2 separate regions of the Homo sapiens genome follow, and region 1 is linked to region 2. The links come from fine-mapping of genetic effects on gene expression. A gene starts in region 2. The other region holds a variant in brackets. All regions are shown on one strand. Distances are from middle to middle.

Region 1 (16,101 bases), 57 kb after region 2:
TCTGCATCAATAATCATCTGGAATATTGCTCTGTAGTTTTCTTGTAGTGTCTTTGGCTTTGATAACAGGGTTATGCTGGCTTCATAGAATGAATCTGGAAGTGTTTACTCCTCTTCAATATTTCGGAAGAATTTGAGGAGGACTGGTGTTAATTCTTTCAATGTTTGGTAGAACTCACCAGTGAAGCCACCTAGTCCTGGGCTTTTATCTGCTGGGAAGTTTTTGTTTACTGATTCAATCTCCTTACCAGTTACAGGTCTGTTCAGATTTTCTACTTCTTCATGATTAATCTTGATAGAGTGTGTGTTTCTAAGAATGTATCCATTTAATCTAGGTTATCCAATTTGTTGCCATACAATCCTTCAGCGTATTCTCTTATAATCCCTCTTATTTCTGTAGAATCAGATGTAATGTCCTTTCATTACCAATTTTAGTTATTTGAGTCTTCTCTCATTTTTCTTAATCTAACTAAAGGTTTGTTAATTTTTTTGTTGACCTTTTCGAAGAATTAACTCTTGATTTCACTTGTTTTCTCTCTTGTTTTTCTATTTTCTATTTTGTTTCTCTCTGCTCTAATCTTTATTATTTCCCTCTTTCTTCTAACTTTTGGGTTTCATTTGCTCTTTTTCTAGTTCCTCAAGGTGTAAGTTAGGTTGTTAACTTGAGATCTTTTGTTTTTCATGTAAGTGCTTAAAGCTATAAATTTCCCTTTTAACACTGCTTTCACTGTATCCCATAAGTTTTGGTATCTTTTGTTCTCCTTTTCATTTGTCTCAAGATGTTTTTCTAACTTTTCTTGAGACTTATTTGGCTCATTGTTCAAGAGTGTGCTGTTTAATTTCCACATATTTGTGAATTTTTCTTGTTTTCCTTCTACTATTGATTTCTAGTTCCTTTCCTTTGTGTTCAGAAAACTTACTTTGTATGATTTCAATCTTTTAAAATTCATTAAGACTTGTTTTGTGGTCTAATATGGTCTATCCTGGAGAATGTTCTATGTGCAGTTAAGAAAAATGTGTGTTCTGCTATTGTTGGGTACAGTGTTGTCCATATGTTTATTATGTTTAGTTGGCTTGTGGTGTTATCTATTTCTTTATTGATCTGTATGGTTGTTTAAGTTATATAATTTTAGTACAGCAAGAATTTGTTTATATGGTATAGGGTAGAACATTTAGTGCTAATGTCACCCTCTTCCCTCCTTATAAATTAAAAGGTAGCATGCCCAGGGTTCCAAGCTTCTTATGTATTCCTCACTCCATGAGGCTTGCTGAGATCACTAAATATCAGTTGTGCCTTCATAAGAAGGGAGGCACTGAAGAACTACATCCTTCTGCACCAACACGTATCTTTGATCTCATGTATGTTCTCTGCACTGCTTCTGTGGTAGTTCAATAACAAATTGAAGCACAAGTAACTTTATCCATGAATGAGATACCATTCTTCCCAATCTTTGAAATCTAGATCAAGTAGTCTGGTCTACTTTAAATAATTACACCAATATCTCCTAAAAACCCTACTGGATCTCCACTACCACCCCCAAATTACAAATTATAAAGTGCAGCTCATGTACTGGTATTGAAGTAATGCTCACTGTCACATCAAAGGTAAGTAAGGCACACAAAGAAAAGACAATCACAGGATATGCAATATGTGTTGTATAGTGTGGGAGAAGTTGCTGGCTGATCACAAGGGTAATTTCCTTGGCACTAGATGTGACCATTACCTGGTTCCAGCCAACAGAATGTAAATAGAAGACCTGTATGCCATTGTCAGCCCTTGCCCATAAAAACTTCCTATAATTATGAATTATAATTCTTTATGATCTTTCCCCTTCTGGTTTGATGCAAGCAATTTTGAAGGTCATGGTTGAAAACGGCAAAATTCCAAGGTAGGAAGTTGCAGAATCCCTGAATCATTACTTGGAGGAGAGTCATTTTATTAGTCAGAGTTCATCAGAGAAGCAGAATCAATAGGGTGTGTGTGTGTGTGTGTGTGTGTGTGTGTGTGTGTGTGTACATACAGGCATACCTCATTTTACTGCACGTTGATTTATTGCATTTTTCACAAATTGAAGGTTTCTGGCAACACTGCATTGAACAAGTCTACAGCTGCCATTTTTCCAACACTATAGTCACTTTATGTTTCTGTGACACATTTTTGTAATTCCTTTTTTTTTTTTTTTTTTTTTTTTGAGATGGAGTCTTGCTCTGTCACCCAGGCTGGAGTGCAGTGGCACAATCTCGGCTCACTGCAACCTCTGCCTCCTTGGTTCAAGCGATTCTCCTGTCTCAGCCTCCCGAGTAGCTGGGATTATAGGCGCGCGCCACTATGCCCGGCTAATTTTTGTATTTTTAGTAGAGACGGGGTTTCACCATATTGGTCAGGCTGGTCTCCAACTCCTAACCTCAGGTGATCCGCCCGCCTCGGCCTCCCAAAGTGCTGGGATTACAAGCGTGAGCCACCGCGCCGGGCCTTCTTTCACTCTCAACACACCTATTTAACACACTTTTTGTACATGCTATTTCTTATAACTGCGATGCCTTTCTGCTGTTATTCAGTTTTAATGGCTGACTGAGGATCCGACCAACACTGGTATATTCCAGAAGTGGTGTTTGACAATCACCTATTACTTAAAGTTTTAGTTGTCATGTGGCTTCAGGAATGCAATGTAGAATGATATAATAAAAAGTACACCCAACATGGCACAATCGCACCAAGTTTCTAGTTTTATTATTAAAAAGACAAGTGATAAAAACTGCTGTGGGCCTGTTTTCTCATTTGTGACGTGAACTAGACAATCCAAAGATTCTTTAAAGTTCATAATTCTAGTTTTCTATTTAAAAACACCAGTATTTATTAGGTACTTAAAAAGTACTACAGCTAACTTACAACACTTCAATTTCTAGACAAATGCATCAACATACTTACATCATTTACACACAATAATTAACCTTATCAACTAGCTAAGACAGAGAGTACAGAATATCTTGTTCTGAGGATTTGGAGATGAGATCTAAATGTTACTGGAAGATCAAACCAATAAGACGTGAAGGCAAAACTCCAAACTGAAAACAGGTCAAACTTACAATGACCCAAAGGAGGGCTACCTCGAGTGATGTCGACATTTGTAAAACAAGCAAAATCATCAGATGAGATCGGGATTTTGCCTGCTTTTAAGCAACAAAAAGTTTATACGTTAATGAACTCTTTTCTAATTTGAGACTTCTTCCTGTGGCCACGTTATTTACCTTTTCTCTCCCAGTCCTGAGCTTTGGTTGCCATTTGCTTTTAACTCCCAAGCAAACACCTCCTCTTTGTTGCTTGGGCAGATGCTATAAATAAAATCAGCGAAAGTGTCTGATTGATGGTAAACAGGCCTGGGGCGATAATGAGTCTAGTAATTAGGGCCTCTCTGGATTCAACCCAGCCCTTTCGCCCGCCCCCCGGCGGCGCACAATGGGCTCTGCGCGGGTATCGAGGGAGCGGCCAACAGTCCCTGGCCCCACCGCCGTGAAGTGGGGTCCCTTCGCTTCCACATAGGTGGAGACTGAGACAGCCGAGCCTATTTTGATCTCGTTTGGGTTTCTGTAAGGAGCAGTCAGCAGAGTGAGCAGCGCCCAGACGCGCCCCGGGCCCCCTCTACAACCATTGGGAGAGCGCCCCGGGCTCAAGCGTGGAACGGGGCTGCAATGGCAACCGCTGGAATAACGGCCTCGGCTCCCGGTGGCTCCTCAAGCCCGCAGGGGAGGCCGGCCGGGCTAGGCACCTAGCTGTCCCCGTGCTCGTCCGCCCCAGCCCGGGCGCAGCAGGTGGATGCGGCGGTGCTGAAGACACAAAGGGTCCCAGGTGGCACCACCTCCTGCGTCCACCCACGGGGCCGCCAGAGCCCAGTCAAGACCCTAGCTCGCTGCAGCCCCATCGCCAGACTCAACATCCACCCTCACTTGGCCCCGACCGGTTCAGCCCTCTGGCGGCAAAGTAACGGGGTGCCTGGGGGAAGCAGCAACGACTCCGCTTCCTCACCCCAATCTGCGCGCAAAGGGCAGCGGGACAGCGGGAACGCGGCCTGCTGCTCACGCACCTCTCTTGCGGCCTGTTTTCGGCAGTGACAGCTCAGATGTCCAAGTCGTTGCCACTTGGTCCCCGCGTCTCTTCAGACCAGTCCCGCCGGCGGCCGCGCAGCAGCGACTACTAACCGCGCGTGCGCGTGCGGTGGCGGGCGGGAGGCGGTGGCGGCCCGAGGTGTGTGCTACGCGCTCCTGCTCCGAGGGGCTCAACCGCCTCCAGGGGGAGCCGCACATGGAGCCTGTGCCGCCGCCGGCCGGTTGTGGCCTGGACCCCGCTCCCGGGTTAGCCCAGGAGGAATTCCCCCTGCAAGTCCGAAGACTTTTCCTCCTCTGAGCTCCCGCCCTCTCTGCAGACCGTGCTACCTCCTGTTGCGCAATGATTGGGTCCTGAATTTTATGTAAATCATATTTATGAACAACGTCCAGTAATAAGTGCAGCAAGATTAGGGCTCTAGGTTTTCTCCAGAGTTCTAGATGTTAACAGATCTGCAGTCATGGTGATTAATAAGGAGCTTTCCTGTCTGGTGTGTGTATATGACAAATACAGATGCGTTAAGTGTTAATAAATACATTGTATATAAAACAATATGTTCTTTTTCTCTCGAACAACACTATTAATAAGAGCTGCTAACATTTATTGTGTTCATTGTGCTCTAAGGGGCTTACATTCATTGTTTAACCTTCGTGGCAACCCAGGTGATGAAACTGATGGCAACTTGCTCGAAGTTACACAACATGTAAACAGTGGAAACGGGATGTAAATCAGGCCTGTCTCTCTCAGAGCCTGTAGTTTCAAACACATTGAAATAAATCTTAGCATAAACGTAGTTTATGCTATGATTATGCAATCACAAGCTGCTTTGCCTTTTATATATTGGATCAATATTAATTTTACTACTTAATATTTTATAGTAAATCTTGACTTTGAATTTGGTATAACAATTTAATTTTATTGGAAGATTAATTAACAACATTTAATTGACTTGTGAGTCTAAGACCCTTGTTGAAGAGTTTCAATCTTAAGGGTTTGGTGGCATTCCGTGCACAACGTATCATTATTGGCTAGGGGTCAAGATCACTGAGTTTTTTCACATTGCTTCACTAATTAAGACCAGCATTTCTAAACTTTTGACTTTGTCATCTCTGGGAGAGTGTTTGGATAGTGTTAAAATTTACTGGTTAAAAAGACATTTTGTTTGAGATACTTTGTAACAATATTATACCCTTTATTTCTTTCTTCCGTCCTTCTGACTTCTATTATTCAACATACTTCTGTGGCCCATAACAAATACACTTGAACTGCTAGAGAGGGATTTTTTAAAGGATCCATTCAAAGTTTGCAGTGAGGAAGCTGAAAACTAAAAATGTAAGAATAGTGAATTTTTGCAAGATTTAGTAGTATCTTCTTGGTCACATAGTACTCAAAACCTTGAGAACATTTTTTTACTCTTTGGCTGCTACATTCACTGCCTCCATAAATTAAACTCTAACTCCATAAAATCATCTAAAAGAGGTCCTCACCCCCTCCAGTCCCTGTGCCATTTCTCTAGTTTAGATTCTCACTACTTTAGAAACTGTTGTTCAGAGTTACCTAACTAGTTGCCCCCCTTCAGAGCCTCCCACCTACACTTCGTAGTTTAATCCTCAGCTCATTCAATAGTTTCCAATGACCCTTCATTACCCACAGCATGAAATCTAATCTCTAACCTTGAAATTTAAGGCCTTAACATATCTCCAAAATTATTTGCCACTTATTGAAAGGATGATTGAATATAATATTTATAATTTGTTTAATAGGCAACTTTTCATCAGAATAATACAATGTGATAATGTCAGAGGAGAAAGAATAATCTGCAAATAAGACAAGGGGTATGGCTTTTGAGAGTGATGTAGTGTTTAATAATACAAGCGGAGGAGTCCCAGAATGTAATGCTGAATGGTAGAGTCGTGAAGTGTTCTGACACATCAAAGTTGAAGAGAGATTTGGGAAGAGACCAAGGCAATGTAATCAAGATTGGAGGGACTAGAGTAATCAGAAATCTAGAAAAACATAAAAAGCAGGAAAGGTGACCTGGCATGGTGGCTCATGCATGTAATCCCAGCTCTTTGAGAGGCTGAGGCAGGTAGATCACTTGAGCCGAGCTGCCTGAGACCAGCCTGGGAAACATGATGAAACCCCATCTCTACAAAAAAATACAAAAAATTTAACTGGGCATGGTGGTGCATGCCTGTAGTCCTAGCTACCTGGGAAGCTGAGGTGGGAGGAAGCTGAGGTGGGATGAGCCCAGGAGGCAGAGGTTGCAGTGAGCCCAGATAGTGCCACTGCACTCCAGCTTGGATGGCAGAGTGAGACATTGTGTCAAAAAAAAAAAAAAAAAAAAAAAAAAAAAAAAGCAGAAAGGTTCATGCTCCTTGATGGAACAGAGTGATGTCCTGTTGGAAGCCTGTTTTGTAATCAAAATCAGAGCTGTGTTTTATTAATGTTCTACTATGTGCAAGTTGCTATATGCAATTGACCCACAGGTATCATCCTTATTTTACTTATGAGGAAATAGACCCAGATCAGTTACATAACTTATTCACACAGATCTTAAGATGCAGAGTGAGGATTCAAAGCCTGTGCCCTTTCCACAACACCTTGCCACTTGAAAAATGCAGAATATAGGAAATGCCTCGATTATCAGGATTAAAGAGCTATGCAGAATGAAGTTTTAACTCAAATACAATGAGTGGACTCAGAACCTAGATAATTCAAATAATACTTTAAAAATGTTTGTATATTTTCATATGTTTAGGAATGTGCTTTTTAATGGTGCAGAAAATAGAGAAAAGGAAACAAAGTATTCCACAAGTATTTCCAGTGGGTTGACTTTTATTTTCAAGATGTATAATTATGTCTATGGCAGAAAATGATCTTTTCTTTCTTATATTTATACTTATTTTCTGAGGTTTTTTTCCTTATTACTTTAACAAAAATATCAAACAATAGTAAATAATAGTAATGACAATAGTCATCATTGTTTTTCCCAGAATTCGTCTGGTTAAACTATATAGTTGGCAGAATGAGCCCATGCTGAGTTTTTTTCTTGTGTCTCAAGATAACCCCCCTCAGAAACACTACCCGACTTTAGGATTTATAGAATGATATACAGCTATAGTTATCAAAGAGTTATCAAAGAGTATTAGTATCAAGGCAAACAAATCAATGGAACAGAATAGATTCTATATAGACTTACATGTGTATGTATTATGGCCTGGATATGGTTGGTTTGTCCCAACCAAAACTCATGTTGAAATTTGGTCCCCAGTGTGGCAGTGCTGGAAAGTGGGGCCTAAT[G/A]GGAGGTATTTGGGTCATGAAGGTCCTGTCCTCGTAGGTGGCTTGATGCCATTGCAGTAGTGAGTGAGTTCTTGCTCTGACGAGACTGGATTCATTCCCATGAGAATGGGTTGTTATAAAGCTGGGTGCCCCTCAGGTTTTCCCTCTTTGCATGCGTCTGCTTCCCCTTTGACCTTCTCTGCCATCTTTTGGCCTAGCACAAAAGCCTCACCACAAGCCAGAGCCATGTCCTTGAACTTCCCAGCTAGCCAGACTGTGAGTTAAATAAATCTCTTTTCTTTATAAATTACCCATTCCCAGGTGTTCTGTTATAGCAACACAAAACAGAATAAGACAGTGTGGGGAACTGGTTTTCAACATAGGTACACATGCAGTTGGTAGAGAAAGCCTAGTCTTTTCAACAAATTGTGGTGGTACAATTGAATATTCACATGTAATAAGTACATTTTTCAATCCATACCACACAGCATATATAAAAAAAGAGACTGGCTGCATTTTGCCCCGTCTTAGATATTTGTGGAACTTTGAACTTGAGGGAGATGATTTAGGATATATGGTGTAAAAAATTTCTAAGCAGCAAAGCACTCAAGAGGTGACTTGGGTGCTATTAGAGGCACTCCGTTTTAAAAGGGAAACAGAAAATAAAAGGTTTGAAAATTTGCAGCCTGACAATGTGATAGAAATGAAAATCTCCACTGCAGAAATTTTCATAAGTAACAAGAAGCCAAATGTTAATCCACACGACAATGGGAAAATGTCTCCACGGCATGTCAGAGGTCTTCATGTCAGCCACTCTCATCACAGGTCCAGAGACCTAGGAGGAAAAGACAGTTTTGTGGGCTGGGCCCAGGGCTCCTCTGCTCTGTGCAGCCTAGGGACTTGGTACTCTGTGTTCCAGCTGCTCCAGCCATGGCTAAAAGGGGTCAACGTACAGCTCAGGCTGCTGCTTCAGAGGGTGGAAGCCCCAAGCCTTGGCAGCTTCCAGGTGGTGAGCCTGTGGGTACCCAGAAGTTGAGAATTAAGGTTTAGGAACCTCTACCTAGATTTCATAGGATGTATGGAAACGCCTGGATGCCCAGGTGGAAGTTTGCTGCAGGGGCGGGGGTCTCATGGAGAAGCTCTGCTAGGGCAGTGCTGAAGGGAAATGTGGGGTCAGAGCCCCCCACACAGAGTCCTTGTGGGGCACCACCTAGTGGAACTGTCAGAAGAGGGCCACCATCCTCCAGACCCCAGAATGGTAGATCCACTGACAGCTTGCGCTGTGCACCAGGAAAAGCTGCAGACACTCAACACCAGCCTGTGAAAGCAACTGGGAGAGAGGCTATACTTTGCAAAGCCACAGGGGTGCAGCTGCCCAAGACCGTGGGAACCTACCTCTTGCATCAGCGTGACCTGGATGTGAGACATGGAGTCAAAGGAGAGCTTTAAGATTTGACTGCCCTGCTGGATTTCAGACTTGCATGGGGCTTGTAGCCCCTTTGTTTTGGCCAATTTCTCCCATTTGTAGTGGCTGTATTTACCCAATGCCTGTACTCCCATTGTATCTAGGAAGTAACTAACTTGCTTTTGATTTTACAGGCTCATAGGTGGAAGGGACTTGCCTTGTCTCAGATGAGACTTTGGACTGCAGACTTTTGAGTTAATGTTGAAATGAGTTAAGACTTTGAGGGACTATTGGAAAGGGATGATTGGTTTTGAAATGTGAGGACATCAGATTTTGGAGGGGACAGGGCAGAATGATATGGTTTGGCTGTGTCCCCACCTAAATCTCATCTTGAATTGTAACTCCCACAGTTCCCAAGTCTCATGGGAGGAACCTGGTGGGAGATAATTGAATCATGGGGGTGGGTCTTTCCCATGCTGTTCTTGTGATAGTGAATAACTCTCATGAGATCTGATGGTTTAAAAAAAACAGGAATTTTCCTGCACAAGCTCTCTTCTCTTGTCTGCCACCATGTGAGGTGTGACTTTAACCTTCTGCCATGATTTTGAGATCTCTCCAGCGATGTGGAACTGTAAGTCCATTAAACCTCTTTCTATTGTAAATTGCCCAGTCTTAGGTATGTCTTTATCAGCAGCATGAAAATGGACTAATAAATATATAAATCAGTGGGGCCATCTGGCTCTACATTTGGGGTGGAAAGATTTAGAGTTGGATTTTCTACCATTACACACACACACACACACACACACACACACTATTTTAATGGAAATAGAGACCTAAACTTTAAAAATTATAGAAGTTTTATAATATAATATATGGGACTATATGCTTGATGTGGGTAGGTAGGTTGTTTTAAACAATACGAAAAGTGAAAAAGTCATAAAAGAAATTATTAATATATTTGGCTATCTCAAAGTTGAAAATTTTGTATGTCAAAAGACAATACAAAATAAGTTTAAGACAAAAGACTTTCTGAGAAAAGTAATTTTAGCCTATGACAAACTATTAATATTTAGTTTAGGAGTTTAATTAGGTTCCTGTATGTGTTTTAAGAACCTCATATTTAAATGAAGAAGAAGAAGACAAATAGCTCATTAAAAAAATCAGGATTGGGAGGCCGAGGCGGGCAGATCACGAGATCAGGAGATCGAGACCATCTTGGCTAACATGGTGAAACTCCATCTCTACTAAAAATAGAAAAAAAAATTAGCTGGGCATGGTGGCGGGCGCCTGTAGTCCCAGCTACTCGGGAGGCTGAGGCAGGAGAATGGCGTGAACCTGGGATGCGGAGCTTGCGGTGAGCCGAGATTGTGCCACTGCACTCTAGCCTGGGCGACACAGCGAGACTCCATCTCAAATAAAAAATCAGGAAAGATATAAATATGTGAGAAAATTTAAACCCTACTTGTAATTTGAGAAAGGCAAACTAAGACTATAACAAAATACTGCTTTCACTAGACTGGCAACAATTTCAAAGCTCACTAATAGCAAAGGGCAAGACTTGGGAAAACTGCTGCTTTCAAACACTACTCTTGGGGATATATGTTGATATGGCTATTTCTGGTGGCAATTTGGCAGTATCTGTTAAAATAAAAAATATTCATACCTTTTGAGTCAGCAGTACCACTACTGATTATTTAAACTAGGAAAAAGACTCTATGCTCAAGTAGGCACCCAGAAGAATGTACATTGAAACACTGTTGTAACACTGAAAAAAATATTTAAATAGTAATGGATCAATTTCTGCATCAGAGGAGGAAATGCTAAATAAATTATGCTCTATTCATATTTTAGAATATTGTGTTGATGTTAAAAAGAAAGAATTAGATCCATGTTGGTGACACAGAAAAAATTAAGTAACAAATATTGAGTGAAAAATCAACTGGCATTTTAACCAAAGGCTTTTAAAAATCCAAAGCAATACCATATATTCTAATAAGTACATATGTATGTAAATGCATAGGAAAATATACAGTAGTATTCACGCCAAATTGAAATCAGAAATAATTTCTGGGAAAAGGACTGGGATTTTGGTTGGTTGTCAGGTAGAACTTTTGCCTGGTTGGTAATAGTTTTTTTTAATAACAAAGATGTATTTATGCATTAATTGTACAATTAAATAAATAACATTAAAAATTATCATAGTATAATACTGTTCTTTGTGTGAAATGAATTTCCTGTTTTTATTTTTCAGTAGTTTTTAATAGTTAGAAATGAATGTTGAATTCCAGTACATGCCTTTTCAACCCATGTTGAGATTATTAATACATAAATTTCCTGAATATGAAACAATCTTGCATTTGGGGAATAAAGACAACTTCAATGGTCTGAATGTTTATGTTGCTTCAAAATTCATATGTTGAAATCCTAACCCCCACAGTCTGGTATTAGGAGGCCGGGACTATAGGGGGTGATAAAGTCATAAGGGTAAGGCCCCAGGAACTCTCTGCCCCTGTCATCATGTGAAGACACAGTGAGAAGGTGCCATCTTTGAGGAGGCAATCCCTCACCAGACACCAAATCTACCAGCACCTTGATCTTGAACATCCCAGCCTCCAGAACTGTGAGAAATAAATTTCTGTAGTTTAGAAGCCACCTAGTCTACGCCATTTTGTTATAGCAGCCAAAAAGAATAAGACACTAACCTTTTCATAACTGATTATTCCATTATTTTGTTTCTCAGTTCTATTTATGAAGTTTCTTTAGCCTTTTTACATATGTATGCATAATTGAGATAGTCTATAATTTTTCTTGCCTGAATCTGATAACAGAATTAAGTTTATTTTATACAATGAATTAGGAAGTTTTAAGAATTCTCTCATGCCCTGGAATCATTTATATAGTATGAAATTTTATATTGTTTTTTGAGATTTTGAAAAGTTTATTATAACTTTATGGGCATTAATGTTTTGGTGGATTGGTTCATTGAATTTTCCTGAGTTATTATTCATTTACTCAGATTTTCCACTTTCTGCTATATAATTTTAAATATTTTTTCCAGAAAACCATTCATTCAATGAGATATTCAAAGTTACTGGACGCACGTTTGTACTAAGGGAAGGCTGTTTTCTTGAGGAAGGAGCTTACAGCATCAATAGTCATGTATATTATGATTCTTTCCCCAAATTTTCCCCAGAGCAACCAGGGTGACTATGCACTAGCTGAAGGGAAATATCCAGACCTTCTAGAGTTTTTAAAGTACTGTTTCTGAACTGACACTAATTCCTAAAGACTCCAAGCACCGTCATGTACTTATGTTCAGATTGTGAATTTATGGAGGTCACATGCTAGATGGAGTCTTGGCCTAAGTCCCTATGCCAAAGGAGTCCAGTGAAGTCACAGCCCCCTACCTGTAGTATTTCTCTAGTTCCAGAATATGTAATAGGGCTAAATATATGCAGTAACTAACAGAATCCCCCGTGTTTGTTCCCTGCTCCATGGAGTGAGGGCTATGACAAGATATCACCTCGTGAGAAACAAGTTGCTGTACCCTGGGCCACCCCCCAAAAAGAAAGAGACACAACACCTGGCAGGCCTACTCAGATTTGGGATATAACATACACCACATTTGGACAGATTGCTAGGACACATTTCCTGGGTATCTGTAAAACTTCCATATTTGAGTGGGGCCTGTAACTTGCCACAGGTTCAGACTACAGAAAGAGTGTCCCTGTACTTGGGCCTTATGACTCAGGAGATTCAGTGGCATTAGAAGTGTCAATGGCTGATAAAGACATGGTGAGGAATTTCTGTTAAGTTCTAATAAGAGGATCACAGAACATACCACTAGGATTTTGCAGTAAGAGATGCTCTCTTCTGCTGACAACAATTCTCCACTTGAAAAGCAACTCCTGGTGTACTACTGGATCTTCATAAACACTGAATGCCTGCCCATAAGACATGAAGTGACCTGAATTGAGGTAATCTGATTCACCAAGTCACAAAATTGGACAGATGTGATCATGTGTAGGAAGCATAACAAAACTGCATATGCTGATGGCTCAGATTCACACGGTTCCTTATTGTTTCTCTCTCACTCTGCATCTATGGCCTGATGAAGAGGCCTCTATGACCAGTTAACAATGAAGGAAAAAGTACCACCTGGTTTCTGGATGGATCTGCCCTGCTATATTTGTAGCAGTGAGAAGTGGACAGTTGCTACATTACAGCCCCACTCAGGGAAGTCCTAGAAAAGCAGGGGTGAGCTGAAATCATTCCAGTGGGCAGAATTTCTGGTTGTCCACTCATGTGGAAAGAAAGATAGCCTTAATATAGATCTTCATAATATGTGGACTAGCAGATAGGCTAGCTGACCCGGGATGTAGAAAGAACAAGAATGACATGCTGATCGCGAGGCAGGTTGTAAGAGAGGTTTGTGGATGGGTTTCTTGGAGTGGGCACAGAGTGTGAAGATATGTATGTTCCACATAAAGCCCCCCTACAGGTATCCACTGCAGAGGAGGTTCTCAAAATCCAGATGGATAAGAATATCCACGTCAGCCCCCTTTTCTGGCCAAAAATGCAAGCTCAAAGGCCCCATATACAAAGTGGTCATGGAGGCAGGTGTTGAGGCCATGCATGGATTTAATAAAATGGGCTTTAATTCATGAGGGTGATCTAGCTACCAGTGTAACTGAATTCTCAATCTGTCAACAGCAGAGGCCAGTGTGGAAGTCTTGCTGGAATTATCTTTTATGGGGATCAGGCAGATGTCTAGCAGTATTTTGAGGATCTGGAATGCTTTCATGATGGAAAAAGCAGCTATTTGTCCTCAGAGGAGAAATACACATTCTGGTTGTGGATTTGTCTATTCCCTTTCTGCCAGAGCTACCATTTATGAACTTACAGAATATCTCATCCATTGCCATGGTAGCCCACACAATACGGCTTCCAACAAGAAATACATATTATGAGAAGGAAGTGCAATAATGGTCTTACCCCCATGGATTCACTAGTCTGACTATGTACCACATCACCCAAAAGAAGTTGCCTTGTTAGAGTGATGGAATGGCTTTTGGAAGACTCAGTTGTAGCTCCTCGTGAAAATAACATCTGGGAGATTGGGGTGCTGATCTACTGGATTTACTATGTCTTAATCTGGTGACCAATGTAGGAAACAAGGGTGAGGGGGAAGTGGCCACTCTCATTACAACAAATCCTCTCCTGAACACAATTTTTGTTCTTATCCTCAAGACTTTCAGTTCAATGGGTTTGAATGTCCCAGTGCCCCAGGGAGGAATGCTTTGAGGAGGGAACAATCATAGTTCCATTAAATTAGAATGTGTGGCTGTTTCTTAACAGTCTGTACTGCTTAACCAGTAGGCAGGAAAGGTTAGTATACAGTGTGATTGATCTTGATTACCAAGGAGAAAATAGGTTTCTGTTACAAAATGGGGGCAATAGAGAACTGTATCTAAAACCTAGCACTTCTTAGTAAGTCCTTACTCAACTGTATTGATCAATGGAAGATACATCCACCAAGGACCCAAATTCTACAGGAAGAAAAGTTGAGTCACACCAATTTTCATACAACCCCTTCCATTCAACTATCAGGAGAGGGTAAGAGGACCATAAAAGAATTATCAAAGAAGGAAGTTTGAAAATCAACCCAGGACTCATCACAAACCTCAGAATGGGTCTCGTGATCTGTTTCCTTTGGCTTCCTTTTTTTCCTTTGCTACTTATGTGGAAGCACAGGTGGTAGCTAAGATTTTAGGTTTCAGGTAAGAGTATAACTGACTTGGCATCACCTCATAATGATATGTTACTGGGGATTTTGTGTGAATACATTTTTCACCAAGGCAAGATATATGAACAAGAATATATGCTAACAAAGGGGGTGAAATATGCTAAATATTTTCTGTTTGCCCCACTAGATGTAGTCTCTATCCTCTTCCACTTTGCTCTGTGACCCATGCAGGTGGCCTTTATGGATGGCATTAATGGTTTCTGTGGGGTCAGCCAATGAAAGGCATTGACAAGAAACTGGAGGAAGGAAAGATGAAGCTTTCCACTAGGCTTCCTCTCTAGTGGTAAGTACAACAATGCCATCACATACGGTTCTTCTCATTGAAGACCAGTTACAAGGCTTTTTAAAATACCACTAGATCTAATGTAATTGGCACACAGAGGTAAAAGCAAGCATCAAGAAAAAGCTTTTCCCTAAGAAACTTTCATGAGGACATTTTTGCCTTTTACACTGAGACCCTGCTTTACTTTCTGCTTCCCTCCGCTCCTCACCTTCCTTGTTTGCGGCTATCATTAAATCAGCCAAGTCCTACTCTTGCTTCTAGTCTTAGTGTTTTAGCTCAGAAAGTGAGCTAAACAGGTTGTTAACCTGACCCATTGATGTGAAAATATGTAAAACTCCAAGTTTCTGATATGTGTTTAATTCTTATTCTCAATTTGGAATGTTGTTTCAGGGGGTACCTAGTTATCTATTTTAATGAATATATTAATAAGAATTCAGAGTGGAAGGCTCATGTGCTTTTATTCACTTCTTACTAGAAGTCTTAACAAACATTTATTGAGCATCTTCTGTGTCCTAGGCAGTGTGCAAAAATTTTGACTGACAAACACGTGGTTCCTGCTTTCAAATAGCTAATAATGTAGTTAGGGAAATAGACATATAACCAAATATCTATAATATATGAGAAATTATATAATAGTAGCATAGACAAAATGCTATGGGAGCATAAAGTATGTTGTTACTCATTCTTCCTAAATGAAAGCTTCATCAAAGAAGTGACATTAGAACTGTGTGACAAAGGCAGAGGAAATGGATATTCTGGCTATCATGGTCACAGCATGAGATATCCGGAGAATGGAAACTAGTCCATTTTAGTTAGATGTAGAGTGCATGAAAGTAAATGTCAGAAAATGATTCAGGAATAGTACATTGGGGCCAGTTTATTAAGGAGCTTGAATGTCATGGCAGATAATTAAACTTTATTCTTCAGATAGAACCATCAGATTATTTTAAACAGCAGAGTGACAGGATTAACCCTAAATTTCGGGAAAATATTTAGTTGCAATGTGACATATTGAGTGACATGCAATTTGATGACTTTTGACATATATACACCCAAGAAACACCACAAAAATAATGAACATATTAATCACCCCCAAATTTTCCTTGCCCTCTATCCCTAAGCAATCACAGATTTGTTTGCTGTCATTATTGATTAGATTGCCATGTGTAGAATTATACATAGATGAAACTATATAGCATGTACTCTTTTTTTCTCTGGCTT
Region 2 (16,101 bases):
TAAAGATCATGTTTGTATAATGCAATTTTAAAAATCCATGAGCAGCCTAGCATTTTAGAGCCTTGCTTGCAATCTTGGGTGCCTCCTTTTCTTTCTTTCTTTTTTTTTTTTTTTTCCCAAATAGAACTTTTATTACTTTTCTAATCACCTCTTTCTTGCCAAACGCTTTTGGAGCAGGTGCTTTCTGGGCTGGAGCTTTTTGACCCTTCTGAGCTTTTGGAGGAGGCGCTGCCTTCTGGCCTGTGGCTTTCTGGGCAGGAAGCTTCTAAGCTGGAGCCTTCTTGCCTGCAGCGGTCATCTTTTTGCTAGAACTTTAGCAGCAGCTGCAGCAGCAGTAGCACGCTTCGCAGCAGGTGCTTTTTTGGGAGAAGCTTTTGGAGAGCTGCCTTTTGAAGCTTCTTAACTTCATTCTTGATTATTCTGTTCCTCATTGCCTTCATAACTTTAAAATGATCAAAATCTGTCATCTTGGCTTTCCTTTCTCTGGCTTCAATCTTCTTGGCCCATCGTGTGGCTGCCCATTTTGTATTGATGTTTGCCTTCTGCCAGGCTTGTCTGACATACTTCTGGTGGGCTCTGTGTGGAAACTTGAGGTTGAAATCAGTGAGCTGCATGCACTTGAAAGGCATGGTCTGTCTCCTCACTTGAGTGCAAGGTCCATCAACCAAAGCCCTGTTTTGATCAATAACATCTACAGTTGCAACCAATTTTCTGGCACGAGGTCCAGAGGGGATGTAGCCCACACGGCCAACCTCCACGAAGCGCCTGAACACCATGTTGGTGGCGTTTGGCAAGAAGGAAGAAGGCCAGGTGCATTCTTTTATAAAATATTAGTTATTGACCAGGCGTGGTGGCTCACGCATGTAATCCCAGCACTTTGGGAGGCCCAGGTGGGTGGATCGCTTGAGGTCAGGAGTTTGAGACTAGCTTGACCAACATAGTGAAACCTCATCTCTACTAAAAATACAAAAATTAGCCGGGTGTCATGGCAGGCACCTGTAATTCCAGTTGCTCGGGAGGCTGAGGAGGAGAATCACTTGAACCTGGGAGGTGCAGGTTGCAGTCAGCCAAAATCGCACCACTGCACTCCAGCCTGGGCAACAGAGCAAGACCCTACACACCAGCCTGGGTGACAGAGTAAGACCATTTCTCATAAATAAATAAATAAATAAATAAAAATATTAGTTATCACTGTAACCCTGACTTCTATGCTCTTCAGAGAATTACTTTATGCTTGTTAAAAACAGAATCTCCTTTAGTGACCCAGACACATATGATTAATCTTGATTTTAAAGCCAGATTATTTTTTTTTTGAGATGGAGTCTTGCTGTGTTGCCCAGGCTGGAGTGCAGTGGCGTGATCTTAGCTAACTGCAGCCTCTGCCTCCCAGGTTCAGGCAGTTCTCCTGCCTCAGCCTCCCGAGTAGCTGGGACTACAGGTGTGTGCTGCCATGCCTGGCTAATTTTTGTATTTTTAGTAGAGACGGGGTTTCACCATGTTGGCCAGAATGGTCTTGATCTCCTGACCTCATGATCCACCTGCCTCAGCCTCCCAAAGTTCTGGGATTACAGATGTGAGCCACTGTGCCCAGTCTAAAGCCAGATTATTTTTATAAAATTTTAGTGAGCAAGTACCCAGCTGACATGATTGAAAATGTAGATTCGTGTTTAGAGAATCACAGAATCACAAAATCACAAAAGCTGGAATGAGGTGGCTCAATGACAACTCACTCAGAAAATATGCTTTGAGAACCTGTGGCAGGCAGGGTGCCAAAAGCTGGATGGTCAGACACAATCTTACCAGCAAAGATTGACTCTTAAATATAGGGAACCATTCACTTAACTCACTGGTAGTGTTGTTTGATAAAGTTCTTAATGTTATTTTACACCATGTTAAGAAGCTAAATGAACTCTCTTCCAAGCCCTCACTTGAGGAAACAGGGGTGGACAGGAAAGTGACTAACTCCCTGCAGTCTCATGGTTAATTTCAAATATTTGAATGCTGTACAGTATCTAGCTCACGATATAGTCACAAAACTAAACTTTTAAATGAGCAAAGAATGGAATGAATTCAATCTAGGCTGAGCCAGAACAAGAACCCAGGTTTCTTCTTCTTCAAACCAATGCTTGTCACGTTGTTGGTAGATCAGAGTTTTCTGAACCAATCATATACCTACATCATAATTTTTGCCACATTAAATTAACCATTTAATTAAAATCAGTTTTGAACTTAGCTTTATTCTAAGCAACATGTTAACATCTGTGAATTGAGAATTTCTTGTATTATTCGTATTTATTATAATAAAATAAACATGTAATTATTTTTAAAAATTCATCTTGTACAACCAGAGGTATAAATACCAATTCTGGGGGAAATGCTAATTTGAAAATACTATCTAGAGAAAAATAAGGACTGTAAACCAAAAAGTATCTCAGACAGGTCTCATTCAATTTAGAAGTTGATTTTGCCAAGGTTAAGGACATACCTGGAAGAAAAGAACACAGAATCACAGAAACAGTCTCTGGTCTGTTCCTTTATCCAAGGATGACTTTGAGAGCTTCAGTATTTAAAGGGGAAAAGTGGGTTGGAGAGGTAAGAGCGAGGGTATAGTAATCTAAGTTGCAGGAGAAAAGGCGCAGGTAGGGGAATGGTGAATGATGCATTCATCTTGTGTGCAGCAAATCAGCACTTTACATGAAATAGGGTGAACATAGAGTAGCTACCTATGGAGATATTTAACCTTTTATCTGTAGCTATCTGCTTAGGAACAGAAGAAAAGGCAGCTTCTTGCATGACTCAGCTTTCAGCTTATTTTTTTCCTTCTGGCAGAGTGAACTGGAGTCTCACGTTTTTATTCTCCTTTCACAGCACCGAGACTGCACAGAATCATTCCTAATTATTTCCATTTTTATGATAAAGTCCAAAGCTTGATTCCATAAAGACCTTGAAATCCTTTGGAATTCTTGCTTGAAAAAACTCTAAAAGTACATTGGTAATTTCTTACATTCCCTCTACCTATTGAACAAATAAATGAAAATGACTCATCAAATTTATTTACTTTTGGTTATTATCAGAAATTATAATCTTGAGAAAGTATACATGAACACCTTAATTTACCAAATAGCTATATGGTATACTGTTGAGTATAGTATACTAGGCTGTAGTATACAATTACGTCTAGTTTTGAAATCAAGTTTTAACAAATAGGTTATATTCTTTACTCACCAAATTCAGAACAGCATTCATTCTCCAATGAATTCAATAACCTTTCAAGTGAAAAAAATGAGTAAAAAAGAAAATGTGAGTTCTTATTTAGGAATGAGATGGAACATGTTCTGCAAATTAATGAGCTTAAAGCATCAGACAACACACCTGGTTATACTTGAAAGTTATCAAAAATGCTTCCATTTAGCATATTTCACCTTAAATATCCACAGTACGTTTAGAACCCTCTAATTAAGACAAAATAGCAGCTTGTATGTGCACAATGAGAGTGTGCCAGACTGGAACATCAAAAAGATATTGGAAGTTCTCTATTTCATTATTTATCATTTCTTCCCCCACATAATATATTGCCTTGTACAGTTTTCAATTAGGACTTCCCCCATTCTCTAGGAAAAAAAATGTAATTTTGTGCCTTTATTTAGATGAACTATATTATCAATATTCACATAGTCCAGGTCGCATGAATGTTCACCTTATAATCAAATATTTCTATGCAATCTCAGTGGTTTCTATTTGTACTTATAGCCTTTCCTTATTCAGAAGGGGGATTTTTTTTTTTTTTTTTTTTTTTTTTTTTTTTTTTTTTTAGATGGAGTTTCGCTCTTGTTGTCCAGGTTGGAGTGCAATGGCGCCATCTCAGCTCACTACAACCTCCACCTCCTGGGTTCAAGCAGTTCTCCTGCTTCAGCCTCCCAAGTCTGAAAGCTGAAAATAAGCTGAAAGCTGAGTCATGCAAGAGCTGCCTTTTTATGTTTACATTTTAGTTTAAAATTACTTTCTAATTTTTTTGTGTGTGACTTCCCCTGTGACCCATGGTTTGTTTAGAAGTACATAGTTTGATTTCCAACTATTTGGAGATTTACAAATATCTTTCTGTTACTGATTTCTAGTTTAATTTGTGGGTAGAGACAATAATTTTTACTGTTTCAATTATTTTAAATTTGCTGAGATTTGTTTGATGATACACAGTGGAGTCTATTTTGATGAATTTTCCAAGTGCATTGGAAAAGAAAGCATGTTCTTCAGTTATTGGGTGCAATGTTCTACAAATGTCCATTAGGTCAAGTTGGCTGATAGGATTGTTCAGGTCTTCTATATCAATAGTTCAGAAATTTGCCAGCCTTTTTTCAAAATCACCTTCGTAACTTTCAAAAATACTAATGCCTGTATCTCACTCCTTAAGACTGTAATTTATTCTGAGGTGTGGTCTGTTCACTAGAATAATTAAAAGATTCCCAGGTGATTCTAATATACTGAAAAGTTTGGGACCTGAGTTCTGTATACTTAAATTATCTGTATAGTTGTTTTACAAATTGCAGAGCAGGGAGTAATGAACTGTTTGAATTCAATTAATTTTTGATTCATTTCTATTTTGTAGCACTGTGGTTAGGATTTTGTGTCTTCTTGATGAATATGCCCCTTTATCTAATTGTTTTAATGTTATTTTACCTAATTATTAGTGAAGGTAAACATTTTTTAAAAACCTTTCTGGCCGTTCAGTTTTCCTCTTCTGTAAGTGGCCTACTTACGTTATTTGCATATATTTATCTTGAGTTGTCTTTTTCTTACTGATTTGTCTGAATTCTTTTTTTTTTTTTTGAGACGGAGTCTCACCCTGTCGCCCAGGCTGGAGTGCAGTGGCACCATGTCACTGCAAGCTCTGCCTCCTGGGTTCATGCCACTCTCCTGCCTCAGCCTCCCGAGTAGCTGGGACTACAGGCGCCCGCCACCACGCCCAGCTAATTTTTTGTATTTTTAGTAGAGACGGGGTTTCACCGTGTTAGCCAGGATGGTCTCAATCTCCTGACCTCGTGATCCACCCGCCTCGACCTCCCAAAGTGCTGGGATTACAGCCGTGAGCCACCGCGCCTGGCCTGAATTCTTTATATTTTGAGAGTTTTACTATATTCTGCCAACCTGTGGCTTGTTTTTTAACTTGATTAGAGATGGCTTCTCTTCTGTTTGTAAAACTTCCAAATTTTAAAATAATCAATATTTTACATCTTTCCTTAATGAATCGTGCTGTTTCTTCCCTACGGCGATATACAGACATACGCTTTTCTTCTAAAAGTTTAGAGTTTTGTTTGTCACATTTTGGATCATTATTTCATTTGGAATTTAGTTTTATTTCTGTCGTGGTATCAGGATTGAATTTCTTATTTTTATATAAATAGCCAATTTAACTAGAACCACCATAACTTGTGTTTTCTATATCCCACGAACAGTTACTATACTAATTTACACTCCCAACAGTAATGAATAATAGTTTTTTCCCCACAACCTTAGAAACAGTTATTCCTCACCAGACATCTTTATTGTATACCAACTTCCAGGTACCCTTTTTTTCCTAATTTTCTTTTTGTCTATTCTTGTGTCAATACCACTTTTTTAAAAGTTGCTTTAAAATAGAATTACCATATGATTCAGCACAAATTAACACACACTTCTGGGTGTATATCCAAAAGAACTGAAAAGAGGGTCTCAAAGAGACATTTGCACACCCATGTCCATAGCAGTATTATTCACAATAGCCAAAAGGAGGAAGCAACCTAAGCGTCCACTGATAGATGAATAAACAAAATGTGGCATAATACACATAATAAATGATATATAGAACTATTCAGCCTTAAAAAGGAAGTTCTGCAATATGCTATAACATGGATGAACTCTGAGGCATTATGCTAAATGAAATAAGCCAGTCATAAAAGGGCAAATTCTGTATTATTCCACTTAGGTGAGGTACCTAGAGTAGTCAAACTGATAAACACAAAGTAAGATGATTACTGCCAGAGGATGAGGGGAATAGGAAATGGAGAGTTGCTCTTTAATAGGTATACAGTTTTAGTTTGGCAAGATGAAAAGAGAGATTGGTTCTGGAGATTGGTTGGAGAACAATGTGGAATGTATCTTATACTACTGAAGTTAAAAATGGTTAAGATGGTAAATTTTATTCTATGTATATTTCACTACAATTAAAAATATTTAAAAATACTGTTCTAGCAAAAACAAAAGGTTGCTTTTAATAGTTTCTCTTGATCTTTGGTGTCCTGCAATTTCACCGTTGCATAGAATTCTTATATTAATCCTGCTCAAGAATAAGTACTTCTTGAATCTGAAAATTCAAATATTCCACAATCTTGGAAAATTCTTAGTTATTACTCTTTGAATACTGCCTGCATCCATTCTCTCTAGTCTCTCTTTTTTGGCACTCCTATTAGATTTATGTTGGATTTTTTTTCATTTATTTAGCTCCTACATTGCATTCTAGTAAATTTCCTCAAACTGAATATTGCAGTCGCAGCCAAATGCATAGTTCTCAAAACACTGAATAGAAGATATTTTTATATAGCTCTTAAAATGATTAAGGCGATGTGTCAGCAAACTGTGCCAGAAGTAAAAAGTCAAGAAACAGGGAGACATAAGGCTTGTCTCTACAGCTTAGGAGGCTGTGCCAAAGCCAAAATAATAATGTATTGCTGTGGATGTCTACCTTGTACTCAACGAATATTAAAGCAGGATGCCGCTTTGTGTCAAGTACTAGATTACGATGAACGGTGTCACGAAGAACACTCCACTCTTGATACCGTATATGTGACCTTGAGCAAGAAATGTGTTCACGCTCAGGCTTCAGTTCCTTTCTGTGGGTTGCTGTGAGGCTCCACAGGGGTAAGGTAAGCACAAGTGCTATGCCTCAGTACCACTAGGGTATTTTCTCAATTCTAAAATATTAAATGGCCACGCACTACAGATTTAATAATAGTTTCGGAGGAGGGGCGTGAGGAGAGGAACATTCCACTAGCTCAACTATAAGCTTTCCGATTTCGGAAATAAGAAAAATATGAAAAAGTCTGCTTTTAGAATTAAGGAACGACGGTGTCGCGTTGACTTTCTCTGCTTGGTTCGCAAACGCTCTTTTCTCGAACTTGAATGACTTCTCTGTCGCTCATACCAACCTCTTTCCTGAATGACTTCTCTGTCGCTCATACCAGCCTCTTTCCTGATTTTCCACACTGGGATTCTCACTCCAATTCTCAGGTTTCCTGATAGACCTGATGAGCCGCTTCACCAGCGCCGCTTAGCTTCGCTTCTTTACTGTCATTGGCTGTCGCTGTTCCAGGTCCCGCCCACAGCGACCTCAATCCTGATTGGATGTCAGTGTCCTTTTGTTATGGCAAAGGTGGATCCCGGTGCTTTGAGATTGGACGACTGGGGTGAGGCGGGCAGCTAATGCGCAGGCGTGTATTCTCGAGTCAGGATTGGCGGGCGAGCGGCTGGGACGGGATGGGATTCTTCTCACGGCGCACGTTCTGTGGGCGGAGTGGGCGGAGCTGCCGGGGTCAGTTGGTCCAAGTGTCCCGGCCTGAGGTGTCGGCCGGATCCCTCCTTCTCCCGGCGCCTCAAGCGGAAGGTGAGGGCCGTCCCGGGCAGCGGAGGGCCTGGCCCCAGGCGACTAGAGCTGCATCCTCAGTACCTCCGAGGGCCTGGAGGGCGGGGCGGGCTGGACGCGGCCCTGCGCACCGGGGGCCCGGGAGGAGCGGTCTCGGGCCTGGGCATTTGGTGGGCGGCGGAGGCCTGGCTCCCGGCAGAACCCTTGCGCGACCTCTTTTTCTCCTGTTTTCGTTGTCAGGCCCAGGCGTTCTTTGGGAGAGGGACCTCTCGCGGTCCCTGACGCAGACATCGTGTAGCTTTCTCCCCGCAGCTCCTGGGTCGGGAGCCGCTTTGCAGCTCTCGGCTCTGGAATTGGACTGCGGGAGGGGCGTTTGGGTGGAATGGGACCTGGCACGCCTGGACCTTCCCGTGGCTGCTCTGCGAGAGCCTGAGAGATGGGAGGGGAGGCTGAGGTGGGGAGGGAGCCTAGAGAGCCGTAAAATAAGGATTGGACCATTTTTCCAGGCGGCGAAAGCGGCACCTGGGTTTGTTTCCTGATCGTCTTCTCCCCCAGAGTCCTGCTGAACAAGTTTTGGGAAGAAAGGTTTGGAAAGGAGAAAGAGGATACATTCCTGAAAGGCAGGGCTTCTGTTATACAGTGTGTCAACCTCACACTATTACGCAACAATAAGGACAGATGCCATTCCAGGTTGCCAACACGTTTTCTATGCCCGAGGACCCAAAGCTGTGCCCATGTATTCTGGTACCTCTATTCCTGATTAAAATCAGTGTAGCTAGCCATTCTCTGAGAGTATAGCTTCCATTTAAATCCTCATTTGGCCAAACAGTTCCTTGATCTTGTGGAATTTGAAACTGGATTTATTTAACCAGGACAAGTCAAAGCAGAACTTGAACAGATCTGAACAGACATTATATTGAAGTTCCGTAGCTTGAAGGGAATGGAGTTTATTTTCAGTTGCTTAGTAAAGATTCCAGAGGAGTTTGACATCAGTGGTAGCAAAATGTTTGGCAAACTTAAGATTAGGGCCATATTAAAGTTTTTTCCATTGCATAATGGAAAAAGCATGGACTGTGAAGTTAGACCTGGGTTCAAATTCTTGGTAGAGACATTGGCTGTGAAACCTCTGAAACAGCTTTTCTGAAAGATATATAGACTTTCTGAAATTTAGTGTCCATATCTGTAAATTGCAGTTTCCTTCTGTTGATTTGATGAAATAACATATGCAAAGCATTTAGCACATTAATGCACGAAGACATTATTTTAGCAGTCTTAGTAGTTCTCCAGTATGACAGATGGTGAAATCAATTTTAGATGCAGAAAAGTTGAGTGGCTGAAGATGGACGGGTATTAGGAAAAAGTCTCAAAATCTGCAGGCTCAGATGTGACAATAGTTGTGGTGGAATGGTGGAAAAAACACTGGGCATTTGTTGTAGTCTTGGCCCTGTTGCTAACTACTTCTGTGGTCTTCAGTAAGCCATTGTCATCTTTGGCCTTGATTTTGTAAAATGAAGCAGCTGGACCAGATGGTTTTCTTTAAATTCTTTCTGTTGCCCAAATTAGAGCTAAAAGGTAGAGAAGACGATAGCAGACATTTATTGAATACCTACTATGTACTAGGTACTGTTGCCAACACATTGTATCTATCCACTCATTCTCACAACAAACCCATGAGATACGTACGGTTATTATCCACATTTTACAAATGAGGAAACTTAAGGCCGAGGTGTTAACCTTGCCCAGGGTTCCAGAGCTTATAAATTGCAGAGCTAGGATTTGAATCCAGGTAATCTGAATCCATATTGTTAATCATTGTGCCAGGCTGCCTCTTGAGGAGAGTGATATTGTGGATATTGTACACTATTAGAGATAACTGTAAAATAAGATAGGGGCATATTTGGTAAGATGATCGTCTTTGGTCACAGGTGTGTGTGCATGGCAAAAATTATTTAATTAAATGAATCTTGTCCCAATGTTTGCCACATTTCCTGGTTTGTATTCTCTCTATGCGTTCTGCCTCCTGGACTTAAATAATCAAAAAAGTAATTCTAGATTCCCTTCCACTAACCAAGGCTAGATACCCGAATTTACTGTGTTTTTTGAGAAACCTTTGAAAGGTCTGACCTAGCCATACATCAGAGCTGAAGAATCTCAGCGAACCATGTCCATTTCTGGGGTAAGGTGGTTTAGGATAGGCAGAGCAGCCTCAGCGCCCCAAATTCATTTCAGTGTTCCCACGCTTGAGCAGACTTGGTCTTAATTTTCTCGTTTTTCATCAGATTTGCGTTTATATATAGGAGCAGAAGGAGTTGAAAGTGAACTCTTAAGAGCATATTTGACATGGAATTAGATTGATGTTATAGCAACTATAGGTAAAAAAGGATTTTATAGTTGAAAAATTTGAAAAGCTCAGTATTAAGTATCTGTTATGATGTAGTACTGTGTTAATGTAGACTTTGGGCAGTTTGGGGATCAATACTATTTTAAAAGAAAAAATCCATGGCTAAAATACTTTGACATAAAGAACTCAGCAAGTCTTTTGATCCCATATGTCAAACAAATCAGTTTATTGCCCTAAATCTACTGAAAGACTTTGAATATATATTAATACAATAGTAGCATTTTGAGATGGGTCTATTTGATCACATCACAATAAAATACAATTGCTTCTTGTTCTTTTGTCGTGGAAAGGCAGCAGGTAATGCTGTGGTCCACTGTACTAAAGAGTAATGCCCTTATGCGTAGGGCTGCCAGATACAGTGGGCGGTTTTTTCACTGTGCAACACTTGGGATGCAATCTTACGTAGACTGTGGTGTGAATTGTGCTCTCTCGCGTTGTATACCCTTATAGCACTGTTCTTGTGGCACTACTTTTGTGCTCCTGCCTCTACCCTAATCTTGAGTGTAAGAGTAATTTTTCCTTTAATAAGCCCTCTCCACCCTGTTTTTCTGCTTTTTATTTTCTTTCACTTTTTCAGATGAAGTCACACTGTTGCTAAACCATGCATAGGTTTTCTATTGTTTGAATTATATGTGGTCAGAATTTCAGAAACTGGCTTCTTTTTCTTTACCTCTTATATTGGTGAGTTTGGAATACTTGTGTTTTTGCAGACTTTTTGGTTTAATTTAAATATTAGTCTGAAACATAAGCAAAAGAAGACTACCCTATCACTGTATTATATCTGACTTCAAAATCAGCTGTGTCGATTTTCTGATTATCTGTTGCTTTGGCTTGTATATCTTATAACTCTTCTTAGCTATCATGAAAATTCGTTCTAGCTGTAGCCTTAAAATCATTGGATATGAGAAATTTGAAGCACTTTTAATTTATTATTTAGCAAAGACAGATGCCAAATTGCAGCTTACTCTTGCTGAGCACTCCCACGATCACTTTTGCTTTTGGCTGTTGCCTCTCTCATCTTACTCAGACCTCTTTTAGCTGGATCAGTGGTTGAAATGGTATGAAAAGAGAATGACTGTAGTACCTGGTTACAGGTGTGCTTCTCTGTCAGGGAAATGTCAAATCAAGTTTTCACTGACACTCTTCCTCTTCAATTATAGTTAAAGAGACATGTTGATTCAATGGAGAGGAATAGTTTTTGGAGTGTGGTCTTTAAATACTACAGTAGGCTGAATAACTTTTAAAAAAAGAATTGTTGGAAAAATTTTAGTAATCTGAAATGCAGAGAACCTGAGAATTAAATAATGTGAAAAAGAGGTCGGGCAGAGCAACTTTAAATGCGGTTTAGATAAGGGGACAGATGCTAGAAGACTTGGAGTAGGTTTATTCAGCATTATTAAATTAATTGTATACCATTTGTAGTTAATTATTTAATAATGTTATACAAGGGATATTTCATATTTTTTTCTAGACTAGTGAGTGCTATCTAACTTGAACTATAAACTTGAAGTTTATGTATATGTACACTGGGCATTTTAATTTGAAGTTCATGTTAGTATCTAAAGTGTAACAGGATTTATGTAGATGTACACTGGGCATTTTCAAATTTCATGTTAGTATCTGAAGTACAACAAGATTTGTATTAACAGCTGTGAGAGAATGTGTAATACACTGATATCTCTATTGTGATTCTAGTTCTAGTATGTAGATATCCTTATTTAATAGGTCTGCTTTCTACTGTTTAAGATACGGAGGCATAACAATGCCTTGGGCATAGAAGATATTCAGTAAATACTTGTTGAAAGAATAACACTGACAGGTCTAGGTTGCTTCAATGTAGTAGATTAGATTGGTTAACAAATCTGTTTTCAGTAATAATCTGGTGACATTATTTAATATATTTTGAACATATTGAATGAAATGATTGTTAGCAATGGAGCAGAACATGTTTTATAGAAATTTTTTGTTCTAATATTTAGAAGTCTTCATTGTAATAATAAAATGTTAGTATTTATTTACTTATTTACATCCTGATTAGTCTGTTTTGATTTAACCCTGACTAGGAGCTGATGAATGGACATTTTTTCATTTATTCCATATTAATATTTTAGATGGTCTAGTATTTATCTTTTGAATTTTATTTGTAAAAAATTAAACAGTATATGTAAAGCAATACTTTAATGAAGAAGAATATTTGAAACAATTTTATCTTCATCCATACCGTCATCCTTAATATCAGAGCATTTTTTCATTTTCATGTTTTTTATGCATATTTATATATATTTCACATAATTTACATCAGTGAATATACAATTTTATACACATTTTTTCATGTAGTATAGTCATAATTATTTTCAGTAGCCACTCCATTAGAAATTATAACTGTACTCAGGAGGCTGAGGAAAGAGGATTGCTTGGGTCCAGGAGTTTAATACAGACTGGGCAACTTGGCAAGACCCTCATTTCTAAATAAATAAATAAAAATATGTCTTCTTAAAAAGAAAATCACAACTGTAATTTACCAGACTTTGAGTGGGCAGTTATGTTGTTTCTGATTGACTTCATTGTAAATAAAATTGAAGTGATTTTTATGTATATAACTTTCTTTGCATTATTGTCCTTAGCCTAAATTTCCAAGGTAAAATACTCAGTTAAAAAAGATGTAAATGTTTTTATGAATCTTATTATCATACTGCTTTCCAAAAAGATTACATATTTAAAATTTGTGTCCAGTGTTTGTGTATTTGTTTTTCCATAACTCTTTGCTAGTATTGATCATTATCTCCTTTAAAAATAATAACTGTACGGTGGTATTTATGTATTTTTTGATTATCAAGAAGCTCAACATTTTCTCAAACTATTTATATCCTTTGCTTATTTACCCATTAGGCATTTATTTTATTCTTAGTAAAGCATATGAAAAGTCCTACTATGTCATAGTTAACAAAATCATCCTCCTTTGAAAAACAGGCTTATAGTTTATTGCTGTATGTGTCTATATTTCTGAATTTTTCTTATTGTAGACCATTCCTCAAGAATTTTGTATCCAAGGCCCAAAAGTTTGTTACCCAAGATGATGAATGCTGACATGGATGGTATGTTCTTCATTTTCTTTTTTGTATACTCCTGGTTTTGTGGATGCTTTTGCTTTATTAAGCAATGGAAAGGGCAGAGAAACCATGTTTAGAAGACTTTGATCTTGGCTAATTACTTATTTATATCTCATCTAGTGTTAGAAAGGACCAACCAAAGCAGCTTCCATTCCTTAGCTATGAGAGGTTGGCAAGTTGTTTTTATCTTCTTTACCTTGGTGGTATTATCTGCAATTTGGGGATACAAAATTTTATTTCACAGGGCTCTTGTATAAGTCAAGTAAGAATGAATATAAAACATTTTGCAGATTTTTAAGTGCTACCCTACACAAATGTACCTAATGCTAATTAATAGTAAATTTGAACCTTTATATTACAGCAGTTGATGCTGAAAATCAAGTGGAACTGGAGGAAAAAACAAGACTTATTAATCAAGTGTTGGAACTCCAACACACACTTGAAGGTTGGCTTGCATTTTGTAGTTTATTTGAATGACAGCCAATTAATTGAACTTGTAAAAATTTATATTGCTAAATTTTGTTTGTTAGGATGTATAATTTTTAAAAGAATGAACTTCAAAGTACACACATATATATATCTATCTTCCTGCTTTGGTAGTTTAAAGAACAGATACACTTCAGTCAAGTCAAATGTTGTTATTGTGCTTCCCTCTTTGAAGCCTAACATAATGCTGGCTAGTATGAGACCCCCTTTTAAGTCCCCATAATGTGTTACTAAGTCCGCTTTAATAAAGCTTATTTTAAAGTAAAAACAATGTATTAGCCTTGGAGATTAAAAAGGAATTCATCTGAATTTTTTCATTTTCTAAATCTTGCATAAAATTAATACACTGAAACATCTTTTGAGTTTTAATGAAATTAAGAGGTTGTGTTTTTGGTGCCACAGTGAGCAGATCATGTCACTCAGAACCTCCCACTGATTTACATTTTACAGAGTTAATAAAAGTCATCTGTGACTTCCCTATTAGCTTTCTTTTTCTTTTTCTTTTTTTTTTTTTTTTTTTTTGAGATGGAGTTCACTCTTGTTGCCCAGGTTGGAGTGCAATGGCGCAACCTCGGCTCCCTGCAACCTCTGCCTCCCAGGTTCAAGCGATTCTCCTGTCTCAGCCTCCCGAGTAGCTGGGATTACAGGCACCTGCTACCATGCCTAGCTAATTTTTTTGTATTTTTAGTAGAGATAGGGTTTCACTATGTTGGCCAGGCTGGTCTCAAACTCCTGACCTCATGATCCACCCGCCTCGGCCTCCCAAAGTGCTGGGATTACAGGTGCGAGCCACCGTGCCCAGCCGGAATTAACCTCTTATGTGATCATCAGGAACTGCATGTGTTCAATGTCTTGATAATGTTACAATACAAGATGATAAGTTGCTTGGAAACTGACTGCCTGTATTCAGTATATGAATTCAGTTGTGTTAACCTGATATATATCTTAAACATTTCTAGTAAAGATGTTATAGTTTTATGTTGATAAGACATGAACCAAAATTCACATTTTAAAAACAAAGTCTTTTTAAAAAATTACTCAACATTAATGCTATTTATGAAGAATAGCATTTAGTCTAATGTGAAATATCTTTTTAGGAATTTGTCTACTAATTTGTACTCAGTTTGTTTACCTTGCTGTCTCTAAAATCCGAATTCTTAAAATTTAAGGATTGTATTATTTCTTTTAAGAATGAATCCTAAGAATTTTGTAATATGGAATCATTGTCATTGTTTTATTGATAATGGGCATTTTTATTTTTTATATAGATCTCTCTGCAAGAGTAGATGCAGTTAAGGAAGAAAATCTGAAGCTAAAATCAGAAAACCAAGTTCTTGGACAATATATAGAAAATCTCATGTCAGCTTCTAGTGTTTTTCAAACAACTGACACAAAAAGCAAAAGAAAGTAAGGGATTGACACCCTTCTGTTTTATGGAATTGCTGCTGATCATTTTTTCTTTAAAACTTGGATAGATTCCAAAAGTTACAGTACCTTTGTGGCTTCATTGAATATTTATGAAGATAATGTCAGATGTAGACAAAAATAACACAATAACAGGAGACTTCCATAAGTTTGTGTATTATGTTAGTCTATGAAAACGTGCAAATGTATTGTAGAGACTTTATGATTAGAATTGCATATATTTATGAAACTTAAAGATGAATGTTTTATTGAATTTGTAGGTTTAGCACTGTCTTTTATTATAGGATTAGTAAGATATACAAGAAAATAACCACCGTGTTGTGAAAAAGTGACCAAAATCATGTACTAAATGCACAGCTTTATGTACCCTGTCCACCATCTTGTGCCTCTTCTCCATTTGCCTCTTCCTTCCTATTTCCCTTCCGCTAAGGAAAAAAATTGGTGTCACATTTGTAAAAGTAATTTTAATAGTTAATCATCTCTGAGAGTAACCTGTATTTTAATTGTTGAAACTTAACCAAAATAAGATACTGTCTCAGCTAGGGCTTGTCATTTGTGTATTTAGTGTTAAGATAGGAATGCTAGTGTCTCTTTAATTAATTGGAAATAGATGGAGGCTAAAAATGAAGGTTTTTCTTTGAAACTGAATTAACTTGGGAATATTTGTTGTTAAAAACTTCTTTTTGCCCAAAATAACTCATTTTGTATTATCTGAAAATATATAATTTCTGGTCATGTGTATGTTAAAATAGAAAATTTTGAGGAAAAATGGAAATAGGGTGGAAAAGTACTCGGTAAACAGTAGTAACCAAATATTTTCACTCCAGATTTGTGTTTTCTCTGGCACAGAGTAGATCTTTTGGGAAATATATATGAAAGTGGATTAAGTTTGACTACCCTTATGTTAGCCACATCTGGATGAGAACAGTTACAAAGAGTTTGGTCTCTAAGTTGATTTGTACCCAGTGGGTCAACTTCTGCAAAATTCCGTAATGGTGTATTAGTATTAGAATAGTGAATAAAATGGGAAAGTTATACATGTATACTTATTATCTTGCTCAGTATTT

What was found.
Region 1: its variant is fine-mapped to the expression of SCOC in whole blood (INTERVAL, PIP above 0.99).

Annotation. Positions count from the first base shown.
Region 1 is chr4:140,423,456-140,439,556 of GRCh38, forward strand. It overlaps CLGN (calmegin), which reads right to left and starts at 4,193. Exons shown (of 15, transcript NM_004362.3): 1 at 4,082-4,193. RefSeq lists an enhancer at 3,350-3,399. The variant G/A (reference allele first, on the strand shown) is at 7,405.
Region 2 is chr4:140,366,085-140,382,185 of GRCh38, forward strand. It overlaps SCOC (short coiled-coil protein), which reads left to right and starts at 7,562. Exons shown (of 4, transcript NM_001153484.2): 1 at 7,562-7,633; 2 at 13,037-13,108; 3 at 13,485-13,568; 4 at 14,878-16,101. The coding sequence starts at 13,087. The coding sequence ends at 15,020. It overlaps SCOC-AS1 (SCOC antisense RNA 1), which reads right to left and starts at 7,308. Exons shown (of 5, transcript NR_033939.1): 1 at 7,179-7,308; 2 at 3,226-3,266. It also overlaps the pseudogene RPL14P3. RefSeq lists enhancers at 7,245-7,746, 7,442-7,491 and a silencer at 7,652-7,851.